7 linked regions of the Homo sapiens genome follow. The protein of the gene in region 6 interacts with the protein of the main gene of each other region in a pairwise test. Each region holds a gene or a part of one and is shown on either strand. Other genes may lie near its edges.

Region 1 (3,500 bases), on a different chromosome or scaffold from region 6:
GGCAGTGTCCAAACAATATTCCCAGCTTTAAGTGGCAATTGTTAAACTTACACTTGATAAGTGTACTGTATTCTGGAAGCCTCTGTCACAGTATTAGCCATTGTTCGCTAATCTCACTGTGTGTTTACTCTGCTGTCCCATCCTTCAAGGCATTAGAGACTCTACCTCAGTTGGGTTTAGAGTAGTGGTTCTCAATTGAGGGAAATTTTGCACCCAGGTGACATTTGGTAATATCTGAAGACATTTTTGATAATCTCAACTGAGTGTATGAGTGTTACCGGCATCTAGTGGGTAGACACCAGGGATCCTGTTCACATCTTGAAAGCACAGAACAGTCCCTTCCACAACAAAGAATTATCTGGTCCAAACTGTCAACAGTGTCAAGACTGAGAAACCCTGATTTACAATTAAGTCTTCAGTAGGGAAGCTGCTCTTGACACTGGGATTAAAAATCCAAATGATAATTTTTTCTAATTCTTATGGCTCCCACCTGGATCACTGGAGGAGTTTTAAACTAGTAATTCTGAGCATAAAATTTATAACTCAATTTAGAATTAAAAGAATCAAAATGACTAGTAATTTTTTTTTCTAAATTTTAACACACCTGTGAGGCTGTCAACCTCCCAAAACTGTAAGCAAAATATGGGGTTTATGTGCAGTTTTCTGGTAGAGCCAGTTTATAGCTTTTGAAAGGTTTCGAGCTTCTGGAGATAAGTTATGATAGTTGCTTGATAAGAGAAAAGCATTTAGTAGCCAGGATTAGGGCTATTATCTGCCTCCAAAGTCTATTTAAAAGGCCCCTCTCTAAGCAAATGAGACAAAAATAAAGGGGAAGCTAAAGCAAACTTGGCCACTTGCAAGAGACGGATCCAGCAAAGGCATGATTGATTTGTCTTCCAAGACACATCCCAGGCCTCTGATGCTCTGTAGCTCTGAGTCCTCTCCCAACTCTTTCACAGGTATGTGCAAGTCTGTTTAAAGATAGATACTAAGTGGGGCCTTCAAACTTTAGGTAAAGTGCTACCTGTAATCTTTGCTAACACCAGTCACACTGGTGCTGCACATAAAGCAATCCTAAAAAGCTTATCCTTACTGAATTTTTTTTTTTTTTTGAGATGGAGTCTTGCTCTGTTGCCCAGGCTGGAGTGCAGTGGCGTGATCTCGGCTCACTACAACCACTGCCTCCTGGGTTCAAGCGATTCTCCTGCCTCAGCCTCCCAAGCAGCTGGGACTACAGGTGCCTGCCACCACGCCTGGCTAATTTTGGTATTTTTAGTAGAGATGGGGTTTCACCATGTTGGCCAGGCTGGTCTTGAATTCCTGACCTCAGGTGATCCACTTGCCTTGGTCTTCCAAAGTGCTAGGATTACAGGCGTGAGCTACTGCGCCTGGCCTTACTAAAGATTTTAATATTTATGCCCTATAACTCTCAATAGGAAAGATCCTGCTTTTGTATCATTTAGGAATATGAATACTCATAAACTTGAATTTAATTCTATTTAAATGCTTTGAAGCCCCCAGTAATAATTTGAGAGGCATGTTTTCCTCATATATATATATTTATACACACACACACACACACACACACACACGTAAAGGAGGATACCAGACAGCATAATCAAATCTCCTTTTGGCAAGCTATTTTTAATCAACCAGCACCTTACACTTCTTTTAAACCATTCCACATACTTGCTCTATTCTCCAAGTTCTTTACAAAATCATACTTCATAAACTCTTTTATTTGATATCTTAAGAAACATGCTAGCATTACCTAAGTTTTTTCCACCAAACAGATATGCTAAGAGAAAACAGTAATTCTTATCAATAATACAAGCGTCCTGCAATTAAAGCCCACACAGTGCTAGGGTAGATGCACAAGAGATCCTGTATCATTACCAGAAAAACTCCACTCCTAAGGTTGAGTTCAATCACAGTGACAGAACACACTAGCCTCATTTTGTTTGGAAAAATGTCACTTACCCCCTAGGAAAGCAATGAATGAAAAACCAATCAATGAAGGCTGATTACAGAAAGGGAAAATATTTCAGAAAATGGCCAAGAAAATCTACTTTGGAGAAAAGCTCTATGAAAACTGAATGGCAACAACTACAAACTAATGAAAAGCAGAGTCCAAGATTCCCAGACCATCAATGTCAGGAAAGAAGCTGACCAAAATGCAAGATCACAGTGAAGTAAAACACAGCATCAGCGAAGATTACCCCTTACCTTCATCCGCAAGGACTTCCGGGATCCCTCTCGAAATGCCTATCCCAAGGAGGAAAACAAGTAGAACAAACAAAACTTGGTACCAAGAATGACAGTTATACCTATCTGAGACTAAAACTAAGGCACAAACTAGTGTTCTATTCTGTCCCCCTTTCTCTAGGTAAAAAATACAATGGAATTCCCCAAACTATTACCAAGAATAGGGGTAGCTCAAGGCCAATGAACTCTGAGACTAATTTTAATACTTTCTACTGTGAAGCTAGGTAATTAACAGGGAAGAGCATGCATCTCTTAAATCCTATATGCACCTCTGATACTAAGAGAAAAAGTAAATAAAAAAAAACTTTAAAGTTGCAGATTTACCAGTTTTGAAACTAAGAAGGAAACAAAGACCAATCCCCTTAACAAGGGATGAACAAGTCACCTAGAAGCAACAAAGTTGCTGTGATGGGGAAGAAAGAACACAAACCAGAAGAAGTTTCTCCCGTAGACATTTTAGCTGAGAATACAGGAAAGTGACCATGACACTGAGGAAACCTAGACCATACAAGAGATGTTTCCTGATTTTTATTTTTTTTGAAACAAGGAAAAACAATCAACCCAAAGACATGAGGCATGTAACCAGGACAAGAATTTCAGACTGTACTTTGGGGTTGAGAGGTGGGGAGATACTGTAAGGATAGTGGAAGCCTAGACTTGAGGCTGCAACACATACGGGATTGTGCCAGGTAGGGCTGGAATTTCATACCTGGGATGGGGACTGGAGTAGAAGAAACTTTGAGCCAGTGGTGATGATATGGTGTGGCAGAAGAGAGGTTGGTCTACATGTACATAACACAGATTAGCTGATTTTTGCAAGTAGAACAAAAGTGGCCCTTCAAACACCTGGATCAAACTTCTTAAAAGAATTTTGGTGCATTCTTGCTCCAAAATTTAAGCTATTTCAGACAATTTCTATTTAAGATATTTTTACCCTGCATACCTTGATTTTCTTCGTCTTTGGTGCTGCACGACCCTTTTCTGGACTCTTTTTCCGCTTCTTGGGTTTGGTTCTTCTAACAGTTAAGGTGATGCTTGTAGGTGTGTGCTGTGTTGCTGTATACAACACAGTGGAAGGAGAAAGCTCCTCATCCCAGCTTTCTGTTGCACTGCTATCCCCACCTGAAAAATGATGATTTCATAGTTCAGGTACTAATAGCCTCAAAAGTACATTAAAAGTAGCTTATTCTTTTAGGTGTGCCCCACATGCAGTAAGCCATTACTTCCACTATTAA
Region 2 (3,500 bases), on a different chromosome or scaffold from region 6:
CCATGGCCAGGATGAGGGCAGAGTAACAGAGTTTCTGGTGGTCTGGGGGGGACAAGGCAGGCAGTCAGAGTCCCCAAAGATGGCAGGAAACCCCAGCAGATGGCAGGAACACCCTCCAGATAGCAGGAAGTTCCCTCCTACCCCGCCCTCCAGCCTCACCCTGCGTGTCTGTCTGCATGTCCCTCGCCAGCTCTACAGGCAGCACGGATGACACAAGCGTGGAGATGATGGCTGCATCCAGGCTGCACATGGCGCCAAAGCACTTGAGGAGCAGCAGCCGCAGTGATGCTCGGTGTTCCTGGCAGGGAACCCTGCGTGCTCAGTGCCTGGAACTCCCCCACTATCTAGGTCTCTCCATTACCCCTCCCCTCCATCCTGCACATACCATTTGGTAATAGGCCACCAAGGCCAGGACAGACTCGAACTCGTTTCTCTTGCACATTTTCTTGCAAACTTCAGGGTCTGCATCAGTCTACAGAAATGAGGAAGTGAGAGCATCAGCCACCATGAGCGGAGCTGTGCAGCCGCACAAGAGAGGGCTGAGCACATATGTGTAGGGGAGACTCCTAGCACTGTGAGGGATGCTACAGGGTGGGGGCCACTGTTCCCCATGTGGGGTATGTGTGTGGGACCCCACCCTTACCAGAATATGCAGCAGCTCCTCTAGGTAGCAGCGGATGACACCCTCATCCTCATATAGTGCCCAACTGCGCTGCTGGGCGTCGTCCTTCCGGCGAGCCAGGTCTGCAAAGATCACCTCCAGCCTCTGCTGGTCGTGGCAGACCTGCCCTGAGGGCAGGGCCATGCTGAGGTCCTAGAGGGAGAGGGCAAGGCATGACTCAGCACACTCCCTGCCCTCACCATCTCCAGGGAGCCTCCAAGGCCTGGAGAGTCCATCTGTGGACTTTTACTCCATGAACTCAAGTCCCTCCTGGCCCACACTGGACAGGAGGCTCAACTCCAGTCTTGATGACCTCCCAGGACAGGAGTCAACGGGAGACTCATCTGTAGGGGGTTTTCAACAGCTCGCCTCTCATCCCAGACCTGGATAAACACCCCCAACTAGGAGGGCCATGAACTCTGTCACTGCCAGAATGTGACTCTGAGACCTCACTCTCCCATTCCACACAAAATGGCACAGGCCTGTCATCTACCAACTTGCCACATTTTCCTTGAACCCTGCTGACCAGGCACTAGCTGTTGTGCCCAGCACAGCCAAGCCCATTGGCCCACTCCCCAACACCCAAACCAGAAGTGTAACAGGAACCATGGAGCACTAAAGAGGGACCTTTGGTCTGTCTGACCCCCATCATGTATGCTGGGCTCACTGCCCCCATCCTGCTCATGAGTGCCAAGGATCCCACCCATCCCATGATGCCCACACACCTCACTCCCTCTCATCCATGTCAGCACCTAGGACTCCATCCCAGCTCTCCCAGCACCCATGTCTCTTACTGCCAAGGTCAGCAAGGCACTACCCTCACCCACGCCGTGTCCATTCCTTCCCTGCAGCCAGACAGAACTCTTGGCCACCCGCATGTCGTCTTATCTGTCACCTGCCCCAGGTCTCACCTCCTCCTACAGCACCCACTCCCTCACTCCCTGTGTTCCAGTCCTGCAGGCCTTGTTCCACTTCCTCCCACAAGCCAGGCTCAGTCCTGCCTTGTGGCCCTTGTCCAGGCTGCGCATCTGCCTGGAATGCTTGTCCTTCCTTTCTGCTTCAGAAATCAGCTCAACGTCCCCAGTGCCCAGCACAGTAAGAGCTCAGAGCCAGAGCTTGAGAAATACCTGTAATGTACAGGCTGGACAAGTGTGTGACGGTGGGAACAGGGTGGGTAGCAGGGTGGCCCTGCTGTGCCGCCCACCCTCACCTTGCCCTCTACGAGTGAGAGGAGGACCTGCTCCATGACTGGTGAGCTGGCCGGCACCGAGGCCTGGATGTGACCCACTATGATGCCGATGGCCACCCGGCATAATTCGTGGCTCAGGCCAGTGTTTCTCCGCACCAGCTCCATCAGCTCGGCCCCAATGGTCCTGGGCACAGCCGCCTCAGCTGCTGCCTTCTCCTCTGTGGTCCCCAGGCTCAGTGTACCCAGGGCTTCCAGGTCATCAGAGGCTGAGGTTGTACCAGTTGCCACTTCTTCTTCTGCAGGGGGTTCAGGTGCTGATGCCTTGGAGGGAGGGGGCTGGACTTGGGACACGGTGGTGTGGGTGCCTCGGCGGGGCACAGGTGGGGGTGTGGGTGAGCAGCTGGAGCCTGGTTCAGATGGGCTGGAGCTGGTATAGAGCGTGTCCAGGGAGGTGCTGCTGACTGAGGAGCCGCTGGACACAGAGTTACCCCCGGAGGGCATGGTGTTGTGGCCACCTGCGAGCAGTGAGTAGAAGCTGGGCCAGGGCAGCCCCCTGGAAAACCATACCCTTCACAGCCCAGATCCCCTGTCCCCTAACACAGGGCCTAGTTTCTCTGCTAGGCACTGCCTCCTCACAAAGCCCAGAGCCCCTAATTGCCCCAAAATGGGAGTCCTGTCCTCTTCCCCAGCTTAGAGCCTCCATTTCCCTGACACAGGCAGCACAACCATTCCAAGCATAGGGTGCCTCCACCTGAATTCCCCTAACCCTGCCTTCTTACCACTCCCAGAGGCCATCAGGGCCTCGCGGTCTCGGCGCTTCACTGGTGGGGGCGGTGTGGTGGGTGCTGCTCGGCGAGGCTGTGGTGGGATCTGGGAAGATGGAAGTGGGATCTGGAAGATGGAAGTAGGATCTTGGAGGACAGACTGACATCTAGAGCGTCAGCGAGGCTCGGGCCCTGAGCCCTGGCTGTGGGCAGGACTATGGCTCTGGGCCGCATCACTCCTGAGTGGACCCCTTGAGCCTCTGGATGAAGCCTCAAGTTCCACCCACCTCCCTTCTCCACGATGTCCTCCCCACACACCTGGTAGAGGCCTCCATCTGCCCCAAGATGCTCAGAACTGGGTAGGCTGTGCTGCCGCTCGAACCCAGCTCGACACACCCCATTGGGCTGCCTGGCTGCAGCAGCATCCAAGTGGTGGTCACTGGTTGATGAGGTCATAACTGCAACACTGGAGGCTGAAGGGCCTCTGCGTGACAGGGTCTCTTTCCGGTGGTGGATCAGCTTCCTGATGGAAGGACAGGAAGACTATTGGGGGGTTGCATCTCACAGCTCAAAGTCCTCATATGCCCCTGTGGGATGCTGGGACCCCATAGCCCAGGCCCCTCAGACATCCCCATCTCCTCCATGCTCCACCCCAGCCTACAGTACCCCATACTATCCTCAGTCCTGCGCTCTGCACACCCCTGGTGCTCACTGAAGGACCCGACCCCACCTTGCTCACTGGGAGGTGCCATTCCCCCACCACCCTTGCCAACCCTCGCATTTCCCAGGCCCACCTGCCCCATGACACTCATTGAAGAACCCCACCCCACCATGCTCACCGGGAGGTCCCACTTCACTCCCCTCAACACTCACTGGAGGACTCCAC
Region 3 (3,500 bases), on a different chromosome or scaffold from region 6:
TAAGATGCTATAGATACTCTAAAACTTAATTCAGAACATTAAGTGAATATTCAGAGCCTTAACTGAAATCACATAAATACATAACATTAATTAGAAAACATAATTCCATTTCAATTCAGATACTAAGCAAGGATCATTCACTGGTTAAGTGATTCATACCTGTATAGAACCCTCCAAGTGGGCATAAACCTGATTCATACCTCAGTAAAATTAGAAACACAGATCATGATTTACGATTGCTTTAAACATCTAAAATGGCCAAGGTTAAATCGGTAAGTATCAAAAATCTGTAATACTGGCTGGGCAAGGGGCTCATGCCTGTAATCCCAGCACTTTGGGGAGCCAAGGCAGAAGCTTGCTTGAGGGCTGGAGAATCACTTGAGGCCAAGAGCTTGAGACCAGCCTGGGCAACACACTGAGACCCCCATGTCTATATTTGTTAAAAAAAAAAAAAACAAAAAAAAAACTGTAATACTGAGAAAACTTCATAAGAACTGCTGAGCAAGCTTTAAAAACTCTCATGTATAATTTTTACTTATAAAAATATTTATATACATTTTTATTTTATACTGTATAAATACATGCTATTTTTAAGAAATGAATATATTCATTGTTGTAATTCAAAAAAAAAACCCCTCAAGATAATCTGCTTAAACACTTTCATGGAATGTTAACCAAGTAATCCTATTAAATCATTAACTTATTTACATATTATTCCTAAATTTACTTCACATCTCTAGGAAGACTAGATTATCAAGTCACCTTGGGGCATAAAACTATTGTTTTGCTGACATAGATACAAAAAGAAAATCAAGGTCTCTTTTTAGAAAGGTAGTTATATCGTAAAAAGTAGAGAGGTAGGTAGCTTCCAATGATCTTGTGCTTCCAATGATTCTGTACTTCCAAAAGAAGGACAGCTATTAAAAGCACCATGTCTTCATGTCCCATATGGTGTATTTACTAAACTCAATTAAATTTTTAAAAAATAATGACAGCCTGCCTTTATCAGACATCAACAAAGTTGACAAAAATAGTAAACTACAATGTAAATGATAAGGTGATAATTATTAAAATACAACTAAATGTAACTGAAAAAAGTTTTTTTCCTAAATGATCAATCAAAACCTTTCACTGAAAGGTATGAAATAGTCATCTAGGACGGTGAGAGAATACATGCGCTAGGACAGGATAAGGCAGTATGGCTGCTAGCCAGTATTAATGACTTCCCTAACAGCAAGAATGATAAAATTTATAAGATTAAGTCCTGCCCTACTTTATAAAATGTTGCATAAAAAGACTTATACTTACCTCTGGTGGTGGTTCCTGATCATTCTTCCATGATGCATCTGATCCCTTATCCCTGAGTGGGGTGGGGATGGGAGTCAAAAAAGTATTCATCACAATTCTATTAAGTGCTCATAACTTAAAAGTACAGAAAATAATAAAGTAAAGGACATGAGTTCAACCTTTAATTTTGCAATACAGTTATGTGTCTTTTACCTTATTTCAAAAGATGTGGGAAGCTCCTAAGAAAAACACAAAAGTTGAGCAAGTAGAAATATTAGGATTAGGGAACTGGAATGAGAAGCCAAGGCTATGGTGTGCAGTGGAAAGCAGATGGACAGCTCTTTTGATTTTTGTTTTCATAATATTTGCAGTTTTCACAAAACTCAGTTTAAAAAAAATGCTTATTTCACGCCAACTGTAGATCAGAAGTTGTTCCATGTGCGAAGGACATAAAAATGACTATGAGGCATTCCCTTTTCACAGATTTTACAGGTTTAATGGCAGAGATATCAATATGAATTATTTTCTCCTCAGTTTACCTGAGGAATGTCAGCAATCCTCTATGAGTAACCAAGGCTTATTCCAACACTGATTCTCAAAGCAGTGAGGGTCAAACAAAGGCTAACTATGAATAGTTGGAGGAAGAGGAAGAGAAGCTGCTTTAAAGATTCTGAAGGACAATATAATGACTGGCATGTGTGAAATGTGTAATTGCAGCTGAAAATCAACAACTTTTGGTGGAGAGTTTTACACTTTACATCCAACAAAAGTACAGATATCTATTATGAGCAGTATAATTTGTGAAAGCTCATTTTTAATCTTTTTAATTTTGTTAATTTCATAGTTTCAGCTACTATTTTGTTATTCCATTATGTTAAAATATCACAAAGTAAAATATTACAAAGTATTAGGACTAGATGTCCTTATTGTTTTAAACTAGATCTCAAAAATAAATGAGATTCCCAGGAATTAAGGCCATTAAAATCAATGTACAGATGTCAGTTTGCTGGCACAACATGAAAGTTATTAAGTTTGCTTTAAATTTTTGATTCGGAACTTTGACATTATATATGAGCCATTATCAATGGCTTTTCCATCACTTAAAAGAAAAAAGCATTTCCTCAATTGTCATTTCACACATGGGCCTTAAATATATCTCTGGTATTCCTTTCTGCACATATGACATCTCATGATCTGGACTGCTGTTAGCCTGGAATCACAGACATAAATGGGAAAAATTCCCCAACTAGTGCGTCTATTACAAAAAATCAAAATCTACTAAAGGAAAGATCAAGCAACATTTCAAAAGGCACTTTTAACAAGACAGTAAGTACATGAGAAACTAAGATCAAAATAGCCTCATTAGAGAACAGTAAGCTGGAAAGGAGCTGAACTTCTCTACCTCAAAGACAAAGTACTCCACCAAGTTCCCATGACAGATGCCAAAATGAGGTCTAGAATACAACAGTTTTCCTGGGAGAGGGAGGTTTCTGCAATATAGGTCTAATTTCCCAATTCACTGATTTACTACTGCTTCTTAATAGAAGAACTGCAAATCAAAACCAAAGACTGAGTCTATTATCTAAAATCTATTTAAAAACCATCTTCAGAAAACCTCTTCAAATTTATCTGTTTTAAGCTAAAATACTCTATTTGTTAAAAAGCTAAATATATGGCATATCCACAGCAGTATCTTTATATTCAAAGCAGGATGAAATGCTAAATATTTAAAGCATTTTAGAACATATTAATATCTTGAAGACTTTATGTGTATTTAATTCATCTTTCTTGTCAGTGTTATTTAAGAAAATAACCTTATGCAATGTGAAGAATAACTTAGGCAAAATATTCCTCCAGATCTTTATGTAGATTCTTAAACATGAGTTAAATCAATTATCAGGATCAAAATTTTCATCTCTGAAATAAATGAAATTTGGTGACTTGAGACTTGATTTAACATGTAAGTGGTATAAGTAATCTTCTTATGCCATGCAACTGGGGTTGGTACCTTTGACATAATACCAAAGTTACTCAGTGACCAAAGTTCCTTTGTTTTCCTGCAAAAACAACATCTATAAAAATGTATCGCCTAGGTTTTAAGTCTCCAATAAAAGAAGAGCTAGAACTAAAAGGAACTTCTGTGTCAAACTGAGTGCAAAGTCTTTCTGGATTTAACCTTCCCCCAGTCTTTGGCAGTCTTTTCTTCCACTCCC
Region 4 (3,089 bases), on a different chromosome or scaffold from region 6:
GCCTCCTAAAGGCCAGTCCCTCTTGTGTCGCCAGGGTGAGGGTGACAGGATATGGACTTGGCACCCATGGTGGCTGCTACATCCTCCCCCCTCAGGCACATTCATCCCAATATGACCCCTCAGCGGGCATCACAGCCACTCCCCTGCACCAGTGCCCCCAGAGATCAGACAACAGTGGTTCTAGTCCAAATTGAGTTTAAATTTTTTTTTTTTTTTTTTTTTGAGACAGAGTCTCTCTTTGTCACCTAGGCTGGAGTGCAGTGGCACAATCTCGGCTCACTGCAACCTCCGCCTCCTGGGTTCAATCAATTCTTCTGCCTCAGCCTCCCAAGTAGCTGGGACTACAGGCGCATGCCACCATGTCCAGCCAATTGTTTTTGTATTTTTAGTGGAGACAGGGTTTCACCATGTTGGCCAGGCTGGTCTCAAACTCCTCACCTCAAGTGATCCGCCCGCCTCGGCCTCCCAGAGTGTTAGGATTACAGGCATGAGCCACCAAATCTGGCCCAAATTGAGTTTAATAAAGAGCTTGAGTGATGCTCAGATTAGGGAGGGAGTGACCGGGAATGCTGGGGTCTGGAACTGGGGGCCCAGCTGAGCTCTGAATCAGAGAGCAGTGAGACCTAAGGGTCCCTGATCTCAGAGGGTCCCTCCTGTCTCAGGGTGAGGACCTGAAGGGTGTGGGTCCCGGGGAGGGTGAGGAGGCCATTGTAGGAGATTTACTGAGATGGTATCGGGATGCCCCAAGCACCACGTAGGGGGATTACATCTGGGTTTCTGGGAACGAAGAGCTGAGTTAGGGGAGAGAACCCGAAAGATCTCAGTGGGGAAAGGACTAGGGGTGCAGGGTGTTTCACAGAAACAATCAAGGGGCCTCGATTTCACAGAAATCATCAAGAGGGCTCCTTGTGGGTAGAAGAGGGGTATCACAGCACCCCAAATATTGGGGCCTGTTCACCCCTCTGCAGCCATTCTGGGGTTTTAATGTAAAACCCCAATGGCAGGATATTCCACATACATTATCATGGGTTTGCAACATTAGCATACGCTGGCTGTCCCGCAGGACGGTGGGGACTGGAAAATCAGTCCAGGGTCTGGGTTTGAGTCCTAAGAGGACAGGCCTGGCGGCGCCACACGGCTCCTCTTCAACAGCTGCCGGAGCTGTAGACAAGGCAAAGGAGGGAGAGAAGTCTGTCAGGTTGGAAGGAGAGGTGGGGAAGGCACGCCATGCAGAGGGAGGGGCTAGAGAAGAGAGGTTGAGTGGGTCCCTTTGGATTTGAAGATCAGAGGTCCAGAGTCAAGATTTTGGAAGAGCCAGGTGCAGTGGCTCACGCCTGTAATCCCAGCACTTTGTGGGGCTAAGGTGGGCAAATCACCTGAGGTCAGGAGTTCAAGACCAGCCCAGCCAACATGGCGAAACCCCGCCTCTACCAGAGATACAAAAATTAGCCGGGCATGGTGGCACGTGTGCCTTTAGTCCCAGCTTGGGAGGCTGAGGTGGGAGAATCACTTGAACCTGGGAGGTGGAGCTTGCGGTGAGCTAAAATTGCACCACTGCACTCCAGCCTGGGTGACAAAGCAAGACTCCGCCTCCAAAAAAAAAAAAAAGATTTGGGAAGGAGGCCGGGAGTGATGGTTCCTGTGATCCCAACACTTTGGGAGGCCAAGGCGGGAGGATCAATTGAGGCCAGGAGTTTGAGATCAACCTGGACAACATAGTGTGACCCCATCTCTTAAAAAAAAAAAAAAACAAAATTAGCTGGGTGTGGTGGTGACTGCCTGTAGTACCAGCTACTGGAGAGGCTGAGGTGGGAGGATCCCTTGAGCCCAGGAGCTCGAGGCTGCAGTGAGCTATGATCATGCCACTGCACTCCAGCCTAGGCAACAGAGCAAGACGCTGCCTCAAAATAAATAAATAAACAAACAAACAAATAAAAATAAAGATGTGGGAAGAAGGTCAAGGCCTGGGTTCGTACACTGAGAAAGGGTCAGGAAGCAGAACTTCAGTGAAGGGAAAGGGGCTGCTGGCTGGGGGTTCCCACCTGGGGGTGAGGAATGAGAGGGAATTGAAGGGAACAGGTAAGAGGTCAAAGGTCACATCTGAGGTCAGGACCCAAGGTTAGGGGCAGGGGGTAGGAGGTCACACTTGGGGGGATCAAAGGTCACACCTTGAGGTCAAGCAAGATTCAGGGTTGGAAGTACAGGTCACACTGTGAGGTCAGGGTTGGGGTAGAGATCAGAGAAGTCACCATTCTGGGGTAAAGGATGAAACACTGAGGTCAGAGGTCACATTATAGAGTCAGGGTTGCCTGAGGGCTGAAGTCACCTTCCGAGATTAGAAGTCATTCTCTGAAAGCGAGCATTGGGTGGGGCAGGGAGGTCATCCCGCGCCCGCGAGCTCAGAGGCCACTCTACAGGCAGGCTCAGTGCTTACTTACCCCCTCAGGGCCCGGCCCGGGCCGCAGCAGGTGAACGGGCTGCTCATTCTCCAGGTTGCGCAGTGTGGGGTCCGCCCCAGCTGCCAACAGGTGCCGCACGATGGCCTCCTGGGCCGGCCCAGGGGGCAGGGCAGCCGCCATGTGGAGGGCTGTGTTCCCGTGGGCCTGGAAAAGTAAGGGGAGGGCTGGTGGGGATCTGGGCTCAGCTGGCCCAGGCCTCTAAACTGCACTTCAATTTCTGCCTTGTCTACGTCCTACACTTGTCCTTTCACATCCCAGACCTCCCCCGGCCACAGCCACGCTGCATGCATCCCTGTGTCCACGGACTACATGTTCTGGGGCAATCTGTGTCTGCTTCCTATACTTTCCCCTGCAGATCCCACACATCGTCCCCTCCACGTCCACAGCCCCCAGGACCCCTAACATCCCACTGCCCCCCCTACCGTACCCCACACAATCTGCACTTCCCAGCCCCAGCTCCCACCTTCATGTTGACAAAGGTCCGCAGGTCTCCCCGGGGCAGCTCCAGCAGCAGCTGAACCAGAGTGGGGTTGGCAGCCTGCACGGCCAAGTGCAGAACTGTCTTGTTGCTCTTGATCTCCTGAGGGGAAGGGAATGGCAGAGGTCAGGGCCAGCCTCACACCTAGGTGC
Region 5 (3,500 bases), on a different chromosome or scaffold from region 6:
GCAGAGGTTTCAGTGAGCCGAGATAATGCCACTGGACTCTAGCCTAGGTGACAGAGTGTGACTCCATCTCAAAAAAACAAACAAACAAAAAAGCAGTATCTGCAAGTGCAGTAAAACACAGTATATTTTATTGAATATTACTATAAAACAAGGAAAAGAAAATTGCAATAAGTTCAGATAGTGAGATTAATGATATAGCGGTGCCTCAGTGGCTAAACCATGGTTTATGATTTAAAAAAATTTATCCTAAGTTGACCACTGTAGAAGAAAAAAAGAACTTCATTCCCACACTTTGCCTCTGATCATGTGTATAGTCTGTGGCTCCTTATTGTTTTTTGTTTGTGATTTTTTGAGATGGAGTTTCGCTCATTCCCCAGGCTGGAGTGCAATGGCGTGATCTTGGCTTACCACAACCTCCGTCTCCTAGGTTCAAGTGATTCTCCTGACTCGGCCTCCCAAGTGAGTAGCTGGGATTACAGGCGTGCACCACCACGCTTGGCTAATTTTGTCTTTTACTAGACACGGGGTTTCCCCGTGTTGGCCAGGCTGGTCTCGAACTCCTGACCTCAGGTGATCTGCACACCTAGGCCTTCCAAAGTGCCGGCATTACAGGTGTGAGCCACCGTGCCCGGCCCCATGTTTTTAACAATCTTACCACAGTAGGTACTACGTCTCTAACCATCCGTGCTGAGCTGCTTTGGGTTGCCTTGCTCTGCCACTAAGGGTTAGCATCACCTAGCTTGCTGGGCCTTCCATCATTACATTGGATCATGGGCACTGGAGAATATTATAGGAGGAAAATACTTCCAATACACTACCAAATACAACTGTTTCTCCATATCCTTATCAGTAGAATGAGGTCAACTAGATTATGTTATTTTTTTGGTTATAACAGTCTGTGAATCTACAAGACAACAGGAAGTAATACCAAAGTGATGAAGAGTTGATTTACTGTATGTGATTTGTTTCAAAATACTCCAGGAATTAAAAAAAAAAAAAAGTGAAGAGTATAGAGGAAAATAATTGTCAAAATATTAATAACTGTTGAAACTGGGTACCTGGGGCTTATTATAGTGTTTGTGGTATGTTTAAATTTTTTTTTTTTCTGAGATGGAGTCTTCCTCTTGTCACCCAGGTTGGAGTGCAATGGTGTGATCTCGGCTCACTGCAACCTCCGCCTCCTGGGTTCAAGCGATTCTCCTGCCTCAGCCTCCCCAGTAGCAGGGATTACAGGCGCCCACCACCACGCCCAGCAAATTTTTGTATTAGTAGAGATGGGGTTTCGCTATGTCATCCAGGCTGGTGTTGAACTCCTGACCTCGTGATCCTCCCGCCTCGGCCTCCCAAAGTGCTGGGATTACAGGCGTGAGTCACTGTACCCAGCCAGAATTGGGATATATCTTTAAAAAGAAAAGAGGCTGGGCGCAGTGGCTCACGCCTGTAATCCCAACACTTTGGGAGGCTGAGGTGGGAGGATCACGAAGTCAGGAGATTAAGACCATCCTGGCCAACATGGTGAAACCCCGTCTCTACTAAAATACATAAAATTAGCCAGATGTGGTGGCATGCACCTGTAGTCCCAGTTACTCGGGAGGCTGAGGCAGGGGAATCACTTGAACCCGGGAGGCGGAGTTTGCAGTGAGCCAAGATCCTGCCACTGCACTTCAGCCTGGGCTACAGAGCAAGACTCCATCTCAAAAAAATAAAAAATAAAATAAAATAATTGAAAAGAAAGGCTGAGTGCAGTGGCTCATGCTTGTAATGCCAGCACTTTGGGAAGCAAAGGTGGGCAGATCACTTGAGTTCAGGAGTTCAAAACCAGCCTGGGCAACATGTTGAAACCCTATCTCTACAACAAATTAGCTGGGCATGGTGGTGCATGCCTTATAGTCCTAGCTACTTGGGAGGCTGAGGTGAAAGGATGGCTTGAGCCTGGGAGGCGGAGGTTGTTCTCCATCCTGGGTAAAAGAGCCAGACTCCATCTCAAAAAATAAATAAATAGAAAAAAGTTTCTTATAAAGATCCTTACCAAAATATTTATGGATGGAATGATGTAATTTCAGGTATCTGCTTCAAAACATTGTGGAGGATAGATATTTTGTTTTGTTTTAGAGATGAAGTCTCGCTATGTTGCTCATGATGGTCTTGAACTCCTGGGTTCAAGTGATCCTCCCACCTTGGCCTCCAAAAGTGTTGGGATTACAGGCGTGAGCCAGCATGATAAGCCAACTATGATTTTAGATGAAACAAGATTGGCCAAGAGTTGATAAGTGCTCTAGTTTAGTGACAGGTAGACAGAGGTTCATTATATTCTTCTCTCGGGTTTGAATTTGCCATAACAATTAGAAAAAAATGTACTTCACTTATAATACAAACAAAATTCCATTTAAATATGCTGTTGAGCACAACAAAAGCTCAGGGTAAAAAAGCTATTTCTAAGTGTCAACATACTATAATAATCCTTTTTAAAATTAGTTACAATAAATCCTCTACCAGTAAGAGAACAATAAAATGTAGACGGAAGTAACCTTGTATCTGTCTACTTTATGACTTTGAATCTAAGAGGTTCATGCCAATTGTAGAATGTTTAAATAAATGTCGGAGGGAGTATATTTTAGGAGTATTCAAATATGACAGATTGAGAGGGATCAATTTATTTCACATGCCTCATTAAGAGTAAAGTTAAGGCCTGGTGCGGTGGCTCACACCTGTAATCCCAGCACTTTGGGAGGCTGAGGCAGGTGGATCACAAGGTCAGAAGTTCGAGACCAGCATGGCCAACATGGTGAAACCCCGTCTCTACTAAAAATATAAAAATACAAAAATTAGCCAGGCATAGTGGCGTGCGCCTGGAATCCCAGCTACTCGGGAGGCTGAGGTAGGAGAATAGCTTGAACCCGGGAGGCGGAGGTTGCAGCGAGCCAAGATCCCGCCACTGTGCTCCAGCCTGGGTCAGAGCAAGACTCCATCTCAAAAAAAAAAAAAAAAAAAAAAAAAAAAGAATAAAAAGAACCCGAGTCTGCTGTCTCTAAAATTTATGCTCTTTTAGCTGCATCATTAATCATCCTCTTAATTCATTCTCTGACCCCATCTAGGTAATGAACCTACACTTAGAAAAAAATCAAGTTGTCTTGAGCTGTGCCATTTCATAACCCTCTTCGTAAGTCCCATATAGCTCATCTTACTCCACAAATACAGAAACACATGGGGCTTTCCCTCTAGTTTTTTTTTTTTTTTTTTTTCAGACGGAGTCTCGATCTGTCGTCCAGGCTGGAGTGTAGTGGTGCGATCTTGGCTCACTGCAACCTCTGCTTCCCAGGTTCAAGCCATTCTCCTGCCTCAGCCTCCCAAGTAGCTGGGACTATAGGCGCTTGCCACCTCGCCCCCCTAATTTTTGTACTTTTAGTAGAGACGTGGTTTCACCATACTGGCCAGGCTGGTCCCGAACTCCCGACCTTGTGATCTGCCTGCCTTGGCCTCCCAAAGTGCTGGGATTATAG
Region 6 (3,500 bases):
GCCGAGGCTCCCGGCTCGCCCCGACCCTGCGGTCGCCGGCGTGCCCCGCGGGTGAACCCTGGGGGCTGGTACCTTGGGGGACGGCAGTCGGGTCTCAATTGCCCGCAGGTCCTTGTCCAGCTCGGCGCTCAGCTCGGCCAGCTCTCTCTCCAGCAGCACCTGGGGGCGGGGAGAGGCTGGGCAGTGAGGGGCAGCGCACCGTGGGGGTGGGAGGCAGCGGTCAAAGATCGACTGTGAAAAGCAAGGCCAGCGCACCGGGCCGGCGTAAGGGCAGGCCTCAGCGCACGGGCCGGGCTCCTGCCAGGAGGTGTGGCCCAGGGTGCCAAGAGGGCATCCCCGCCACGGCCTCTCACCTGCCCAGCACGCCCCGGGAGTGCCTACGCGCTTCCTGATCCCGCGATTCCGCAGTCCTGCCAGTTTCTGCCAAGTTGTGTCTCTGTTACAGCACCAATGGGGTTCCCCATTTCCTCTCCCATCTTCTCCCGCCCTCCAAGGCCTGGCTTCACTGTGCCCATCCAGGTTCCCCCGCCACCCCAGGGACCGGAGCCCCCACCCCCACGCTGCTTCCTGCCAGCCTCTGCTATGGGTCTTCGCCGAATCAGGCCCTCGGAGCTTCTCAAGGGTCCAGCTCCACCTCCAAGAATATTTCCTGATAATCCCAGTGCGCACTGACCACTCCCTTTTCTGCTCCTGCTTTGGCCAACACATATTTATTTAACACATGTTTACTGAGCGCCTCCTGTATGCCAGCCACTGTCCTGAGTGCTGGCATTACAGAAATAAACCATGTGGGACTGGAGAGAGAGCTCTTAGTTCGTGGCCTATGCCCATGGTTACTGGGGCCACCAAAACCCTAATCTCCCTGGTTTATCAGGCTGCTGTCCCCAGCACCCTGCAGCACTCACCTCAATGGGCTGGGAGGGCTTCTCACCAGGGTCGTCCACCAGCGGTTTCTTGGGCTGAAGGGTAGAAAGGGTGTGTCAGAGCAGGTGAACTCACTTTCCAAAATGTATCAGCTGAGGGTGCGTGCACACCCCGAGAGCCAGCCAGCACTCACCCTCTGCCCAGTCTCTAGTTCCTGCAGAAACTGGTTCCAGGACTCTTCCGTCCAGACATTGTCTACTTTTTCCCGGCGTCTGAGCACCTGCGTGGAGGTGGGTGGGTGTCAGCTTGTGAAGAGGGCTACTGGGACACTGGCCAGGCTCAAAATGCAGGCTTGCAGGCCCCTGCCCTTCCCCTGGGCCCACGGTGTCCTCCAAGGGATTCAAGCTGAAAGGACATCGTGGCATAGGGTCTTGGCCATACGGCATACAGCTGGGGCTGACCAGGGACTATGCTGGGTGGGCTACCTGATTTGAGGGCTGCAGCACAGTGGAGAATGCTCCAGGTCTGTAGTTGAAGGTGCTTCTAGGTAACTCTTCAGAGTGGTCCCAGCTTCTTCTAAAGAAAGGGAAGGACATCTCTTCAGCTTCCTTTTAGGGAGACTGAGGCAGAAGCCAGCACACAGCCCTCTCACCCTGCCCTTGTCCCTGCTGTGGGGTCTACTCTGCCTCTGACTGCCCTGCCGTTACTCTGGAAGCAAGATTAAACTGTGGAAGTGTGTGAGCTCCAAGCTTAAATTCCAGCTCTACTGTTTAGTGGATGTGTAACCTTTGAACAAGTTACTGATCCCTCAGAGCCTCAGGCTCAGAACCTGTAATATAGAAATGATTTGGTGAGAGAACATATATGAGGTGCCCGGGAGAAGGCCTCACACACATATTTGCTCCAGGTGTGGCCCGACCCTCTCCTGTGGGCCTTTTTGCTAAAGTGTCCTGTATGTGTGTTTGGTCTGGCCCCATGACTGTGGCTATGTGCGTCTGTGCAGCTTTGAAGAAGCTGGTCTTTCTGGGTGCTGTGGCTGAGTGATCGTACACCCATGGGCAAGGAAAGCCAGAGGCAGCTCTGCCCTGCAGCTCTGGCCAAGTTATTTCTGCTCCCTGGGCCTAGTTCCATGAGGGTGCTGGATTCAGTGACTCTGTCTGTGAGACCACCCCAGCCACTGCAGTACAGCATGGACACATCTGCCTTAGCTCCCCTCCAGGGCCCCTTGCTGGCTGGCTTACATGGAATGTTCCAGCCTCTGTTTGAAAGTTTCCACTGAGAGGAACCACTGCATCAGGCTTATCAAATAATACAACGTCTGACCAAGGGTTGGGATTTGTTGGCTGTAATAATGACTCCATTCTGATTTTGGTAATAATAAAAGTGACTGTGAGAATGTCATTCCTAACCTAAGGAAGCAGTAATCATAATTTTTTTTTTTTTTGATACGGAGTCTCGCTCTGTCGCCCAGGCTGGAGTGCAGTGGCGCAATCCCGGCTCACTGCAAGCTCCGCCTCCTGGGTTCATGCCATTCTCCTACCTCAGCCTCCCGAGTAGATGGGACTACAGGCACCCGCCACCGCGCCCGGCTAATTTTTTGTATTGTTTTTAGTAGAGACGGGGTTTCACCATGTTAGCCAGGATGGTCTCGATCTCCTGACCTCGTGATCCGCCCGCCTCAGCCTCCAAAAGTGCTGGGATTACAGGCGTGAGCCACCACACCCAGCCTTGTAATCATAATTAAGCCTGTATATTACTAATGTTTGTGCAGGCTTGCTATGTGCAAAACATGATGCATGATACACACATGATCACACTGAACCCTCTGGGCATTACCACTTAAAAGATGGGGACACAGAGGCTCAGACTGAGTGAGGTACCCACAGTCACATGGCTAGTGGCAGTGCACAGGCTTAAACCCAGAACTCAGCGTCCAAATCTTGAGCCCTTTGCCTCTGAACCTTATCGGTGATGCCCAGAGCTACGGGCCAGTTTCAGCCATGCTAATGAGACGAGTCCTTCCCTGCAAGGGAATAAGAAACTCAAGGATTTAACTCTGAGAGCAAAGATCCTGATTCCCACGGTGGTGCTGACCCCGCCAGGGCCCCAGCAGCCGGGCGGAGCCTGTGGTTTGCACAGAGGAAAGGAATGTCATCCTTATCCCTCCAAGGGGCTCCTCTCTCTGTGCTATCAGGCTGGAACTTGGGTTCTTCCATATCCCTTGTTTTCTCTCAGGTTTCAAAGTGGACAGCGCCAGGTCCAAGTTCCCCTCAACAGTTCTGTCCACGGCTGTCCTGGCCGCCCCACTCCCGGTCTCATAAGACCGGTGGGATCTTTGGGGCAAAGAGTTCCTGCTGCTGACCACAAACGCATCACAGGCGTTCCTGGCCAGGAGCGGGTGCCAGGTCCACTCTTGCCTACCCTTCCCCCCTTGACCCTGTAGGGAAGAGAGTCTATGGGGGTGGTGGAGACCCAGAGATGGGACAGAGCCCAGACGGACACGGAAGTGAGACCCCACTCCTGGCTGGGCTCCGAGGCTGTGCCGGCTGTGGTCACGAGGGGGCGCCCGTCCCATGGTGTCTCGCGGGCCGCGCCCCTCCGCAGCCCTCGGCCCCGCCCCACTGTGCTCACCCACT
Region 7 (3,500 bases), on a different chromosome or scaffold from region 6:
AGGTCAGGATCTCGAGACCAGCCTGGCCAATACGGTGAAACCCCGTCTCTACTAAAAATACAAAAATTAGCCAGGCGTGGTGGCGTGCACCTGTAATCCCAGCTACTCAGGAAGCTGAGACAGGAGAATTGCTTGAACCCAGGAGGCAGAGGTTGCAGTAAGCTGAGATCGCACCACTGTACTCCAGCCTGGGCGACAGAGACTCTGTCTCAAAAAAAAAAAAAATCTACAACTAGCCTAATGTAACTTTCAGAATATTCACAAGGTAGAGTCAAATGGTGTCTAGACTGGCTTTGTCTTCTCTATTGTTTTTTTCCCAGAATCTCTGGACAGTGAGTAGGGTGCTGCAAAATGGATTTGGGGTGGGTGTAAGCAAATCACAGCATATTCATCCACCAAATATATTTCATCCACCAAAAGATTACCTTACACACCCTGAAACTGCATACTATTAAATTCCCTGCATTTTAAAAGAAAAAGTAACACCAAAAGCACCTCATGCTCAAAAATATCTCTACTACATATTTTACACATAAGTAAACCAATTTGGTTTATATATTATTCTCTGGGTGAGAAAAGATGACTCTAAATAAAGTAAACCTATCATACATTCTCACATTACCCATACCAAGGTAAGAAGAAAAAGTAAATGAGGCTGGGCACGATGGCTCACACCTGTAATCCCAGCACTGTGGAAGGCCAAGGCGGGTGGATCACTTGAGGTCAGGAATTCGAGACCAGCCTGGCCAACATGGAGAAACCCTGTCTTTACTAAAAATACAAAAATTAGCTGGGTATGCTGACACATGCCTGTAGTCCCAACTACTCAGGAGGCTGAAGCAGGAGAATTGCTTGAACCCAGGAGCCGGAGGTTGTAGTGAGCGAAGATCACGCCACTGCACTCTAACCTGGGCAAAGGAGTGAGACTCCATCTCAAAAAAAAAAAAAAAGAAAGAAAAAAGAAAAGAAAAAATAAATGAACAGTTTATTAATTAATTATTTTGGTAAAGAGCAATTTTGAACCAGGAAGCTCTTCAAGGAAGGGTGAAATGAGGTGAGACTGGATTTCCTGGATCAATAACGGAAATTATGAGGTCACTTAAGTTCCTTGGACAAGAAGGTGTAGGAAGTGTACAAATGACAAAATGTTTAAAAGAGCAAGGGGCTCAAATATAAATTAGCCTGTTTTTGCAATCTTGTCAAAGGTCTTGAAGATGACTGATTTGTCACTGAAAATCTATTCACCAAATGTCTCTGCTGAGAGTTAGGGACTAATTTCTTGAGGAATGGTAAGCCTTGATCAATTTCAAATGAGTTGAGTCATCTTAATCTATGGGGAATTCAGTCTCCCAAATTCTACTCAGTCTCCTTACTCTCAACTGACCTCTTTCTCCTTCATTCTAGGTATTCTAAGATTCTCCCATTTGCAAGAACATACAGAACTCGACCTATAAATATAACCAACCTCCTCCCAATATAGTATATGACATCCATTTAAAAAAAAGTCAAGCCCAGCATCCTTAAAAGGTTCTTTTAAAGGTACAGAATATAGAACATAAACCCATTTCTACAAAAATATTGATATATAGTTGTGCATACAAAAAATATTTAAAAGTATGAGTACCAGATATATATTCAAGATGATCGGGCAATTTTCCATTTCTTTCATAATACCTACTTGTATTCTCCAATAATTTTTCAACAATGAGCATGTATTCTAATGATTTTTATTAAATAAAAATTTTAAATCTTTGTATCATTTTGGTAATTACTTTTGATGAAACTGACTGATAATATTCCCTTGTAAACCTCTCATGAAGTTTTTAGTGAACTCTGGGAGTATCCACATTGATTAAGAGAAGAAAAGGAAAGCTACTAATATGTCTCCTATTGTTCAAAAATATTTCAGGTAAAAATTTAAGGTAAGTTCTTAATTTCTTCTCTTTTGAATAAATCCATATTATGGGATGATTCTACTCTTAATCCAAACAATAAGATTTTACTATGCATCTATGTGAACTGTCACTCACAAAAATCAGTAACTTTTATCTAACAAAAAGAAAAACGTACATATCAACAAGTTGGCTTTTCAGATTTCAGGGAAGTAACAAATAGGGAGTTATTTCATCTACCAAAACATTAAGACAACTATATTGTAATAAAAATTCTTCTATTTGTAAAAACGTAGATTCCAAGTTAACCAAAACATTTTTAATTCCTGGACACCTTCAAACATATTAGGCATTATATGTGTAATTTTTGTTTTTTTGAGACAGAGTCTTGCTCTGTCGCCCAGGCTGGAGTGCAATGGCATGATCTTGGCTCACTGCAACCTCCGCTTCCCAGGTTCAAGTGATTCTCCCATCTCAGCCTCCCAAGTAGCTGGGACTACAGGCACACGCCACCATAGCCAGCTAATTTTTGTATTTTTAGTAGATACGCGGTTTCACCATGTTGGCCAGGATGGTCTGGATCTCCTGATCTCGTGATGTGCCTGCCTCGGCCTCCCAAAGTGCTGGGATTACAGGCGTGGGCCACCGTGCCCGGCCTAGGTGTGTATATTAATAAATGAAGAAAAACGCAGGTCTTACATGTATCTCAAAAAAAAGTCTCTACCAACTACTAAATCCTTTGTATAGGCAAGAAATAAAATTGATCTGATAAATATCAGCAAACTGTAGTTATACCTGTTTATCATATTTTAGAAAAAATATTGACTATCCCATTTTCTAGAGGTTAGAATAATGAAACTATCTAAATTTTTATTAAAAATGACTCTTAGGGGGCCAGGCACGGTGGCTCACGCCTGTAATCCTAGCACTTTGGGAGGCCGAGGTGGGTGGGTCATCTGGGGTCAGGAGTTTGAGACTAGCCTGGCCAACATGGCAAAACCCCATCTCTACCAAAAATACAAAAATTAGCTGGGCGTGTTGGCACGTGCCTGTAATCCCAGCTACTCGGGAGGCTGAGGCAGGACAATCACTTGAACCCGGGGGACGAAGGTTGCAGTGAGCTGAGATCGCGCCACTGCACTCCAGCCTGGGCGACAGAGTGAAACTCTGTGTCAAAAAAAAAAAAAAAAAAAGAACACTGAGCAAAAACACTTATTACACATGATAAACAGATTTTTTTCTACTTTATAGGCAAAAATTACATTTCCACACAATAAAATGAGTGTTGGGTTAGTTAACTCGAGCTAGTGGCTAAGACATGATGCTATAATAAGGCTAAATTGGCCAGGTGCGGTGGCTCACGCCTGTAATCCCAACACTTTGGGGAGGCCAAGGCAGGTCGATCATCTGAGGCCAGGAGTTCCAGACCAGCCTGGCCAAAATGGGGAAATCCCGTCTCTACTAAAAATACAAAAATTAGCCAGGCATGGTGGTACACACCTGTAGTCCCAGCTACTTGGAAGGCTGAGGCAGAAGAATCGCTTGAACCCAGGAGGCGGAGGTTGCAGTGAGCAGAGATCGAGATCGCGCCACTACACTCTAGCCTGG

Evidence for each region.
Region 1: the proteins of SORBS3 (region 6) and SETD5 interact in binary tests that used the Homo sapiens proteins (3 or more experiments, as listed by UniProt).
Region 2: the proteins of SORBS3 (region 6) and NCKIPSD interact in binary tests that used the Homo sapiens proteins (3 or more experiments, as listed by UniProt).
Region 3: the proteins of SORBS3 (region 6) and NAF1 interact in binary tests that used the Homo sapiens proteins (3 or more experiments, as listed by UniProt).
Region 4: the proteins of SORBS3 (region 6) and NFKBID interact in binary tests that used the Homo sapiens proteins (3 or more experiments, as listed by UniProt).
Region 5: the proteins of SORBS3 (region 6) and OIP5 interact in binary tests that used the Homo sapiens proteins (3 or more experiments, as listed by UniProt).
Region 7: the proteins of SORBS3 (region 6) and ABI2 interact in binary tests that used the Homo sapiens proteins (3 or more experiments, as listed by UniProt).

Annotation. Positions count from the first base shown.
Region 1 is NC_000003.12:9,435,615-9,439,114, reverse strand, and holds part of SETD5 (histone-lysine N-methyltransferase SETD5), read right to left. Parts: intron 3,388-3,500; coding exon 3,209-3,387; intron 2,266-3,208; coding exon of another isoform or gene 2,227-2,265; intron 1-2,226.
Region 2 is NC_000003.12:48,679,416-48,682,915, forward strand, and holds part of NCKIPSD (NCK-interacting protein with SH3 domain), read right to left. Parts: coding exon 3,488-3,500; intron 3,138-3,487; coding exon 2,933-3,137; intron 2,742-2,932; coding exon 2,630-2,741; intron 2,366-2,629; coding exon 1,872-2,365; intron 815-1,871; coding exon 644-814; intron 473-643; coding exon 386-472; intron 299-385; coding exon 160-298; intron 43-159; coding exon 1-42. UniProt on the Homo sapiens protein: Has an important role in stress fiber formation induced by active diaphanous protein homolog 1 (DRF1). Induces microspike formation, in vivo. In vitro, stimulates N-WASP-induced ARP2/3 complex activation in the absence of CDC42.
Region 3 is NC_000004.12:163,135,891-163,139,390, forward strand, and holds part of NAF1 (H/ACA ribonucleoprotein complex non-core subunit NAF1), read right to left. Parts: intron 1,361-3,500; coding exon 1,309-1,360; intron 1-1,308. UniProt on the Homo sapiens protein: RNA-binding protein required for the maturation of box H/ACA snoRNPs complex and ribosome biogenesis.
Region 4 is NC_000019.10:35,887,452-35,890,540, forward strand, and holds the end of NFKBID (NF-kappa-B inhibitor delta), read right to left. Parts: intron 3,040-3,089; coding exon 2,923-3,039; intron 2,604-2,922; coding exon 2,439-2,603; intron 1,162-2,438; coding exon 1,108-1,161; 3' UTR 501-1,107; downstream 1-500. UniProt on the Homo sapiens protein: Regulates the expression of IL-2, IL-6, and other cytokines through regulation on NF-kappa-B activity. Functions in the regulation of inflammatory responses.
Region 5 is NC_000015.10:41,326,092-41,329,591, forward strand, and holds part of OIP5 (protein Mis18-beta), read right to left. Parts: intron 1-3,500. UniProt on the Homo sapiens protein: Required for recruitment of CENPA to centromeres and normal chromosome segregation during mitosis.
Region 6 is NC_000008.11:22,561,927-22,565,426, reverse strand, and holds part of SORBS3 (vinexin), read right to left. Parts: coding exon 3,496-3,500; intron 1,441-3,495; coding exon 1,350-1,440; intron 1,145-1,349; coding exon 1,058-1,144; intron 960-1,057; coding exon 906-959; intron 619-905; exon of another isoform or gene 554-618; intron 421-553; exon of another isoform or gene 354-420; intron 160-353; coding exon 73-159; intron 1-72. UniProt on the Homo sapiens protein: Vinexin alpha isoform promotes up-regulation of actin stress fiber formation. Vinexin beta isoform plays a role in cell spreading and enhances the activation of JNK/SAPK in response to EGF stimulation by using its third SH3 domain.
Region 7 is NC_000002.12:203,331,394-203,334,893, reverse strand, and holds part of ABI2 (abl interactor 2), read right to left. Parts: intron 1-3,500. UniProt on the Homo sapiens protein: Regulator of actin cytoskeleton dynamics underlying cell motility and adhesion. Functions as a component of the WAVE complex, which activates actin nucleating machinery Arp2/3 to drive lamellipodia formation.